Homo sapiens: one gene and its partner. The protein of the gene in region 2 binds, or shares a complex with, the protein of the main gene of each other region. Each region holds a gene or a part of one and is shown on either strand. Other genes may lie near its edges. The genes, in order: TADA3 and YEATS2.

Evidence for each region.
Region 1: YEATS2 (region 2) and TADA3 share a complex: the UniProt entries of both Homo sapiens proteins name them as parts of the ADA2A-containing complex.

Annotation. Positions count from the first base shown.
Region 1 is NC_000003.12:9,785,887-9,789,696, reverse strand, and holds part of TADA3 (transcriptional adapter 3), read left to right. Parts: exon of another isoform or gene 1-82; coding exon 83-188; exon of another isoform or gene 189-1,892; coding exon of another isoform or gene 1,893-1,969; intron 1,970-2,356; coding exon 2,357-2,498; intron 2,499-2,587; coding exon 2,588-2,691; intron 2,692-3,810. UniProt on the Homo sapiens protein: Functions as a component of the PCAF complex. The PCAF complex is capable of efficiently acetylating histones in a nucleosomal context. The PCAF complex could be considered as the human version of the yeast SAGA complex.
Region 2 is NC_000003.12:183,696,258-183,700,630, reverse strand, and holds the start of YEATS2 (YEATS domain-containing protein 2), read right to left. Parts: upstream 2,835-4,373; 5' UTR 2,638-2,834; intron 2,554-2,637; exon of another isoform or gene 2,421-2,553; intron 1-2,420. UniProt on the Homo sapiens protein: Chromatin reader component of the ATAC complex, a complex with histone acetyltransferase activity on histones H3 and H4. YEATS2 specifically recognizes and binds histone H3 crotonylated at 'Lys-27' (H3K27cr).

The DNA of each region.
Region 1 (3,810 bases), about 170 Mb from region 2:
CATAGAAGGGGGCCTCAAGGTTCTGGTGGTGGAGGCACTGGTGGGGCAGGGGCGCCCACTCAGGATCTGCTTCTCCCTGCAGGTTCTGGGCTTCAGTGGAGCCCTACTGTGCTGACATCACCAGCGAGGAGGTCCGCACACTTGAGGAGTTACTGAAGCCCCCAGAAGATGAGGCTGAGCATTACAAGGTAGAAACTCTGGGCCTTGATAGACATGATGCGGAACAAGAGAGTTCAGAGGTGCCTGAGAAGTAAAGCTACCAAAGCCATGCATCATCTTCCTTCCCCAACCCTGCCCAGTCTGCTGTCTGCTCCATCAGTGCCTCCAGACACCTAGGCCCAAACTCAGCTTTCTCCGTGCACTGCCTCCCCTCTACCCCAGCCAAATGTCAACACGCCCTCAAGCATCTACTTAAGTGAAGTCTGCCCATGTTCCTTTATCCCCATCCCCTCTGCTTTGGTCCAAGCCTTCATCAACTTCTATCCAAACAGCCTCTTAACTCTCTTCCTGTTTCGAGGCCTCTGGAGGAACCTTTCTTCTTTCTTTAAGATATAAAACTTGGGCTGGGAGCAGTGGCTTATGCCTGCAATCCTAGCACTTTGGGAGGCCGGGGCGGGCAGATTGCTTGAGCTCAGGAATTTGAGACCAGCCTGGGCAACATGGTGAAACCCCATCTCTACCAAAATACAAAAAATTAGCCAGGCATGGCGGTGTGCGCCTGTAGTCCCAGCTACTCGGGAGGCTGAGTCAGGAGGATCTCTTGGACCCGGGAGGTGGAAGTTGCAGTGAGCCGAGATCACGCCACTGCACTCCAGCCTGGGCAACAGAGCAAGACTCCGTCTCCAAAAAAAAAAAAAAGATATAAAAGTCACCTCACGCCTGTAATCCCAACACTTTGGGAGGCTGTGGCAGGCAGATCATCTGAGGTCAGGAGTTCAAGACCAGCCTGACCAACATGGTGAAACGCCGTCTCTACTAAAAATACAAAAATTAGCCTGGCACGGTGGCATGCACCTGTAATCCTGGCTACTCGGGAGGCTGAGCCAGGAAAATCACCTGAACTGGGGAGGCATCGGTTGCAATGAGCCAAGATCGTGCCACTGTATTCCAGCCTGGGTGACAGAAGGAGATTCCATCCATTAAAAAAAAAAAAGCCGGGTGCGGTGGCTCAAGCCTGTAATCCCAGCCCTTTGGGAGGCCGAGGCGGGCAGATCACAAGGTCAGGAGATTGAGACCATCCTGGCTAACACGGTGAAACCCCGTCTCTACTAAAAATAGAAAAAATTAGCCGGGCGTGGTGGCGGGCGCCTGTAGTCCCAGCTGCTCGGGAGGCTAAGGCAGGAGAATGGCGTGAACCCGGGAGGCGGAGCTTGCAGTGAGCTGAGATTGTGCCACTGCACTCCAGCCTGGGTGACAGAGCAAGACTCTGTCTCAAAAAAAAAAGAAGATATAAAACTATGTTTTAATGATGAAAATAAATAAAACATGCTCCATTAAAGAAAATTTAGAAAATACAGAAAAATGTTGAGGGAGAATCCTCCCATAGGTGAGCTGTCATGATCAGATGTGCTCATGACATGGCGCTGCATCCAGGCCTTTCTTCCTCCCGTTATCTACAGGATCAAGTCCACGCATCCCAGTCCTTGCTGGCACAGCTCCAGTGCCCCTCTCCATTTTCCTCGGCCATATCCCTCTTCATTGCCGTGTTGACCAGTCCCACCAAGTATCTCGCCCTCATTCCAGGACACCACAGCCTCCTCGCTGGTCTCTGGGCCTCTGGCAAGCTCTTCTCTCCCTCTTGTCTCCTTGACAGACTTGACTCACCCTTCAAGGCCCTGATCTCATGTTACCTCCACCAAAGCACTCTTTCAGATTCCCCAGCAGAAAGTTAGTCAGTCTCTCCTTTGTGCTGCCACAACACTTTGATCTCTCTCTTTCACTTCACTTATCTGATTTCTTAAAAATTTATCTGAAAAAGAGTTCATACAGACAGCAGTAAATTCAAGCAATACAAAAGGTAATTCCCTGTCACCCGTGACCTGAAGGCTCCTAATTCTCTCGAGAGGCAATTGCTGTGACCTGAGACAATCTGTGTACGTATTCTGCACCTTCTATCTTGGGAATTATTTCAGATTGGCTTCTGTGTGTGTGTCTTAGTTCTTTTTGGACCTGTCTCCCTTACTAGAGTGTGAAGTACAGGTTTTATCTTCGTTGTACTTTCTTACCTACACCTGACACTGGGCTTGGCCTTGGACTAGGGACTTGAGAGAGATATAAGATAGGTAAGTGAATGAATGAATGAAGCATGGCTGGCCAGTGCTTACCCACTCAGGGTTGGGTGCCATCTTTTCCACAGATCCCACCCCTGGGGAAGCACTACTCCCAGCGCTGGGCCCAGGAGGACCTGCTGGAGGAGCAGAAGGATGGGGCCCGGGCAGCGGCTGTGGCTGACAAGAAGAAAGGCCTCATGGGGCCACTGACCGAACTGGACACTAAAGGTAGGCCTCTCACCTCCCTGCCAACCCCAGGTCAGGACTTGAATTCCAGAACTTCAGCCCACCTCCCCTCCTTTCCTGTGCCCGCTTAGATGTGGATGCCCTGCTGAAGAAGTCTGAGGCCCAGCATGAACAGCCGGAAGATGGATGCCCCTTTGGTGCCCTGACGCAGCGCCTCCTGCAGGCCCTGGTGGAGGTGAGCAGCCTAACCCAAAAGAGGAACCATATTTACTTTGTGTTTTAATGTGTTATGCTTATTTTTTATCGGAATTTATCATACATTTATTAGGTTGGTGCAAAAATAGGTTGGTGCAAAAGTAAAAACCTGGACTAATATATAGCAAAAGATTGGGAATAATATATAACTTGTGCACCTAATAGAAAAGTGCACAGATCATAAATGTACAGTTTTCACAAATGAGCTTGTATTACCAGCCTGGAGATTACAAAATGAAACATTACTATATCCTAGAAGCCCCTCTCATGCCCCTGTTTTTCTCCAACTTTCCCCAAAGGTAGCCTTACTCCACAATTACTTTTGCTAAGCATCTGTTGGAGGGGCTTTATACACATCCTCCCACTGGAGGCCAGGACAGTGGTTAACGCTGTGTTACAGATAAGAAGATTGAGGCTCAGAAAAGGGAACTGTTCACTTGAGGTCTCACACACCAGGATTCAAACCCTAGCTTCAGGGGCCCTGTCTTTATACCTGCTGGTTGACCTTAGACACACCCTCACACTCTTTCACCTCATTGAGACTCAGTTTTCTATTCTGGCTCAAACACAAGAGTTTATCTCATGGAACAGTCTGGGTACATGTTGCAGGTTATCTAAGGTAGGGGAAGGGGCAGGTCTCTATCTCATATCATCAGACAGGGACCCCAGCTGACGGTGGCCTTGCAGTCTGCACAAGGTCACTCTGGGCGTAATTGTCACTCCAGTCCCACAGAATAAGAGCAAGGAGGCCGGGCGCGGTGGCTCACGCCTGTAATCCCAGCACTTTGGGAGGCTGAGGCGGGCGGATCACAAGGTCAGGAGATCGAGACCATCCTGGCTAACATGATGAAACCCCGTCTCTACTAAAAATACAAAAAAATTAGCCGGGCATAGTGGCAGGCGCCTGTAGTCCCAACTACTTGGGAGGCTGAGGCAGGAGAATGGCATGAACCCAGGAGGCGGAGCTTGCAGTAAGCCGAAATTGTGCCACTGCACTCCACAGCCTGGGTGACAAAGTGAGACTCCATCTCAAAAAAAAAAAACAAAACAAAACAAGGAGGAGTGTGTGAAGGAAACTTTTTGGCCCATGCCTAGCTAT
Region 2 (4,373 bases):
TGTGATTCTGTCTCAAAAAAAAAAAAAAAAAAGAAAGAAAAGAAAAGAAAAAGAAAAAATCTGCTTCACAAGTCTTGTTTTCTGTGAGAAAACTGCATCAACTCCCACCATCTACTGGGTATCACGACAGAAAACAGACTGAAAGCAGAGCAGGACCAAAGGCAGGGAGATAGGGAACAATCCAAGAACGTGGCAATGAACATTCAAATAAAAATCCGTAGTTGATGAGAAGAGGACAGGACCAACTATTTCTGAGAATCTATTCTAAGAAAATACAGGGTAATGTACATCGTATGTGGGCTACACTCAGAGATCTACAACCTAAATGTTAATTCTCTTCTTCCTATGGATTTTATAATAAAAAATAACCCACAGTAAAATATCATGCATCCACTGAATGAACATGAAGCATTTGAAACTGAGAAACATGTGGGGAGAACTCTGCATGCTGTATGTCAAGCTACCTATTTTTAATATCTAAAGAACTTTTGACAATCAATTAGGAAATAACAAAAGATGACAGAGAACAGGAAAAGAAATTCACAAACAGCCAATAAATGGGAAAAAAATGTTCAAACATACTAGTAATCAATAAATGAAAAAAACACAAGACACCATTTTTCATCGATTAAGTTTAGTTTTGGGGCAGATGGAAATGGGGCACTTTTTTTCTAATTTGCACTCATTAGTTTCATTTCCTCACATCCGGTTCCCACCTCCCACTTCCAGAACTATGGACAGGAAGACCAATGACCAAAACCAATAACCACCGTGTTGCCAAATTCAATTGACAATCTTAATGAACATCTCAGAAGCCCTGATAAAAGGACCAATTCAACATCTTCCAGAAACACCTCTTTTGGCTGCCATGATACATGCCATTTTGGTAGGAGCTTTTTCTCCTACCTCACTTGCTGTTTCCTGCGTCCTTTCCCCAACCTTCTTCCTCTACCAGACCTAGAGGTATTTGAGTGTCTGCGCCCTTTTCACTTCTCCACACTCTTTCCCCTCAGTGATCTCACACAGCACCATACCTTTGAATATCATCTACGTACAGATCACTCCCAATTTTTTTTTTTTTTAAGAGACGGGGTCCTTCCTGCCTTGTAGCCAAGGCTGGTCTAGAATATCTGGGCTCAAGCGACCCGCCTCGGTCTCTCAAAGTGCTGGGATTTCAGGTGTGAGCACCGCGCCCAGCCACTCCCAGATTTTTATCTCTAGCTCTAGCCTCTCTCCTCCTTGAGTTCCAGCCCTCTACATCCAACTGCCTCAACACACCGACTTCATAACTAACATGCATCTAAAATTTAATACATCTAAAATAGAATTCGTTTTTCCCACCTCAAATTTCTCTCTTCCATTCTTCATCTCAGTAAACAGCACCACCACCTACTCAGTTGCTCAAAACAAAAATCAAAAAAGCAAAGATTCCCACCATTCCCTCACCAATCCAAGTCTTGTTCATTCTACCTTAAAACATTTAAAAATCTGTTTATACTTCCCCATCTCCCTGCCACGGGCCTAGTCCAAGCTACTGCAAAGAGCACAGTAACTGACCTCGTAGGTTCCTCCCCAGCCCTCTTCCTCTACATAGCAGTCGGATCATGCTACTCGCCTTCTCAAAACCTTCAAAGGCTTCCCGGGAAAAACTAAACTCCTTATCAGGGCATCATCTGCCCTATCTTTTAAAGAGTATACACAAACAGGAATATACATCCAAGGGTAGTATCTCTAGATCGTAAAACTGCGGGCATTTTTCTCTGGCTTTGCTTGTATTTTTAAATTTTTCTACGCTGAATACCCTCTACTCATTAAGAAAGGGGAAATGATATTGCTGAATTCTATATAATATTATACCGCATTTTTTACATGTGAGCGAGAAAAGGGAATGGAAAACGTGGGTCAACTCTGTAACTGCTGAATGCTTAGATGAAAATACTAGCCAACATCAAACTAAAAAAAAATGATGTGTCAGGCCTGTAAGATTGCTGATGGCATTTCTCTTCCTCTGGTTTCTATTTCTTAACATAATCACATTCATGATGGAGAAAACCTCATTGTCTTCTGCAGTCTGGCCACAGCCCTTCAAGCCAGCCTTTCCTGCAGGAGTCCTCACTTTCCGAGGCTTCCACTCCGCCCCGCACTGCCCGCAGCTCCGGCGCGTTGGCCCCGGCCCCATCCCTGGACCCCCAAAGCCTCTCTGACCCCTCCCCTCCATCCCAGGGAGGCCCGGTGGGGATGGCGACAGGTTGGAGGGGCATTCCAGGATCCTTTCGGTAAACCCACGACTTTCTGGTGCTGGGGCCAAATCTTGCCTCCAAGGCCAAGAGCTTAACATCCTAAAAGCTCCGGCCGCTGTGGCTCGGGGTCCCGTATCCCCTCAGCGCAGCGCCCCGCTGAAGAGGAAGCCCCCAACTCACGTTCCAATTCCAGGCTCCCGCTTCTGCGGCTCCCCGGCCCGCACCTGGGATCCTCCCTGCCCTCCCCTCGGCCCCGGGGCCTCACCGGGTCCCGCTGCCGCGCTGCCTGCCGATGGGGGAGGGGCGCGCACGTGCCCGCGCCGCCCCCGCCCAAACAATGCCCCGGAGAGCGGGGCGCGCTCCCGGCCGGTCCCTTCCTGCGCCCGCCAACACTCACCCTTTCTCCGGGTCTCCGGCTGCAGCGCGGGCCCCGCCGGCCGCCGCGAGAGAGCACGGCGAGGTGAGAGAGCGGGCGAAGCCCCGCGGAGCTGCCCCGCCACAAGGCCCCAGCGACCCCCGCAACCTGCGGAAGCACACGGCGCGGTGGAGCCCGCCCGGCGCGTTCCGCCCCGCACGTCAGCAGCTGGGCGCGTCGGGGCGCGCGCGGCGGCGCGCGCGGCCTCGGGGCGGAGCTCCCAGGGATGAGGGCGGGGCGGGGCGGGGCGGGGCTGGTCCGGGCTGGGACCCCGGCCCGCGAGGGCACTTCCTGGGCAGTGTGGGCGTCGATTCTTGCAAAGGCACAGTCGTCCATCACTTTCCTGCCCCAGAAGATGGCGAATTTCAACCCCAAGTTTGACAGAATATTCATTCTGCCGGCGTGTATGAGCTTCCCTATTAATCACAATAGTGACTATGATGTTTGTGTGTGCCATCTTTGTGCCAACCCATGTGCTAAGTGCTGGGTATACAAAATAACAGTAGTTATTTCTAGCCCATTTTACAGATGAAGAAACTGAGGCAGGGAAGGCTTGAGACTTATCTCAGTCACACTAGCTAGTGACAATCCAAGTCCAGTTTTCCACCTAAATATCACTTGAGGCCAACATTCTCTTTCGTTGTAACTCTACCACCCTACCCAAGACCCTGTAATCTCTCTGCCCAAGACTATGAATAGCCTCCCAACTGGTCTTGGGGAACTTCTGTTCCCCTTCAATCCCTTCTCACTGTATAACGATTTACTACTGGAGCTGAGTGGTGGGTTTAGGAAGTTCACTTTTTTTTTTATACTTTACATACATGTTACCAAATTTTTAATGTATTTAATGTTTTTATCAACGCATAATAAATATAAGTGGTGTTTTGTTTTTTGTGTTTTTTTTTTTTTTTGAGATAGAGTCTCCCTCTGTTGCCAGGCTGGAGTGCAGTGGCATGATCTTGGCTCACTGCAGCCTCCGCCTCCCGGGTTCAAGCGATTCTCCTGCCTCAGCCTCCCAAGTAGCTGGGATTACAAGGCGCGCGCCACCACGCCTGGCTGATTTTTGTATTTTTAGTAGAGACAGGGTTTCACCATGTTGGCCAGGCTGCTCTCGAACTCCTGACCTTAGGTGATCCACCCGCCTCAGCCTCCCAAAGTGCTGGGATTACAGGCGTGAACCACCACCCCCAGGCTAATTTTGGTTTTTTTAGACAGGTCTCACTATCACCACAGCTAGTCTCACACTTCCGGGCTCGAGAGATCCTCCTGGCTGGGCACGGTGGCTCATGCCTGTAATCCCAGCACTTTGGGAGGCTGAGGCGGGCGGATCACCTGAGGTCAGGAGTTCAAGACCAACCTGGCCAACATGGTGAAACCCCGTCTCTACTAAAAATACAAAAATTAGCCAGGTGTATTTGGGCATGCCTGTAATCCTAACTACTTGGGAAGCTGAGGCAGGACAGTCACTTGAACTCGGGAGGTGGAGGTTGCAGTGAGCCATTGCACTCCAACATGGGCAACAAAAGTGAAACTCCATCTCAAAAAAAAAAAAAACTAAGAAAGGCTTCCTTGAACCTTAAGCTAAGACTCAAGAGATAATAGGAACTGGGGAGATAAACAAATTTCATGGAGAAGGGGGTGAGGTCACAGGTCAGGATGAGTGTGTTGGTGTTCCCCTACTCTTAGGGTTTAACAGTGAGGTGGAAAGCATAGAAATA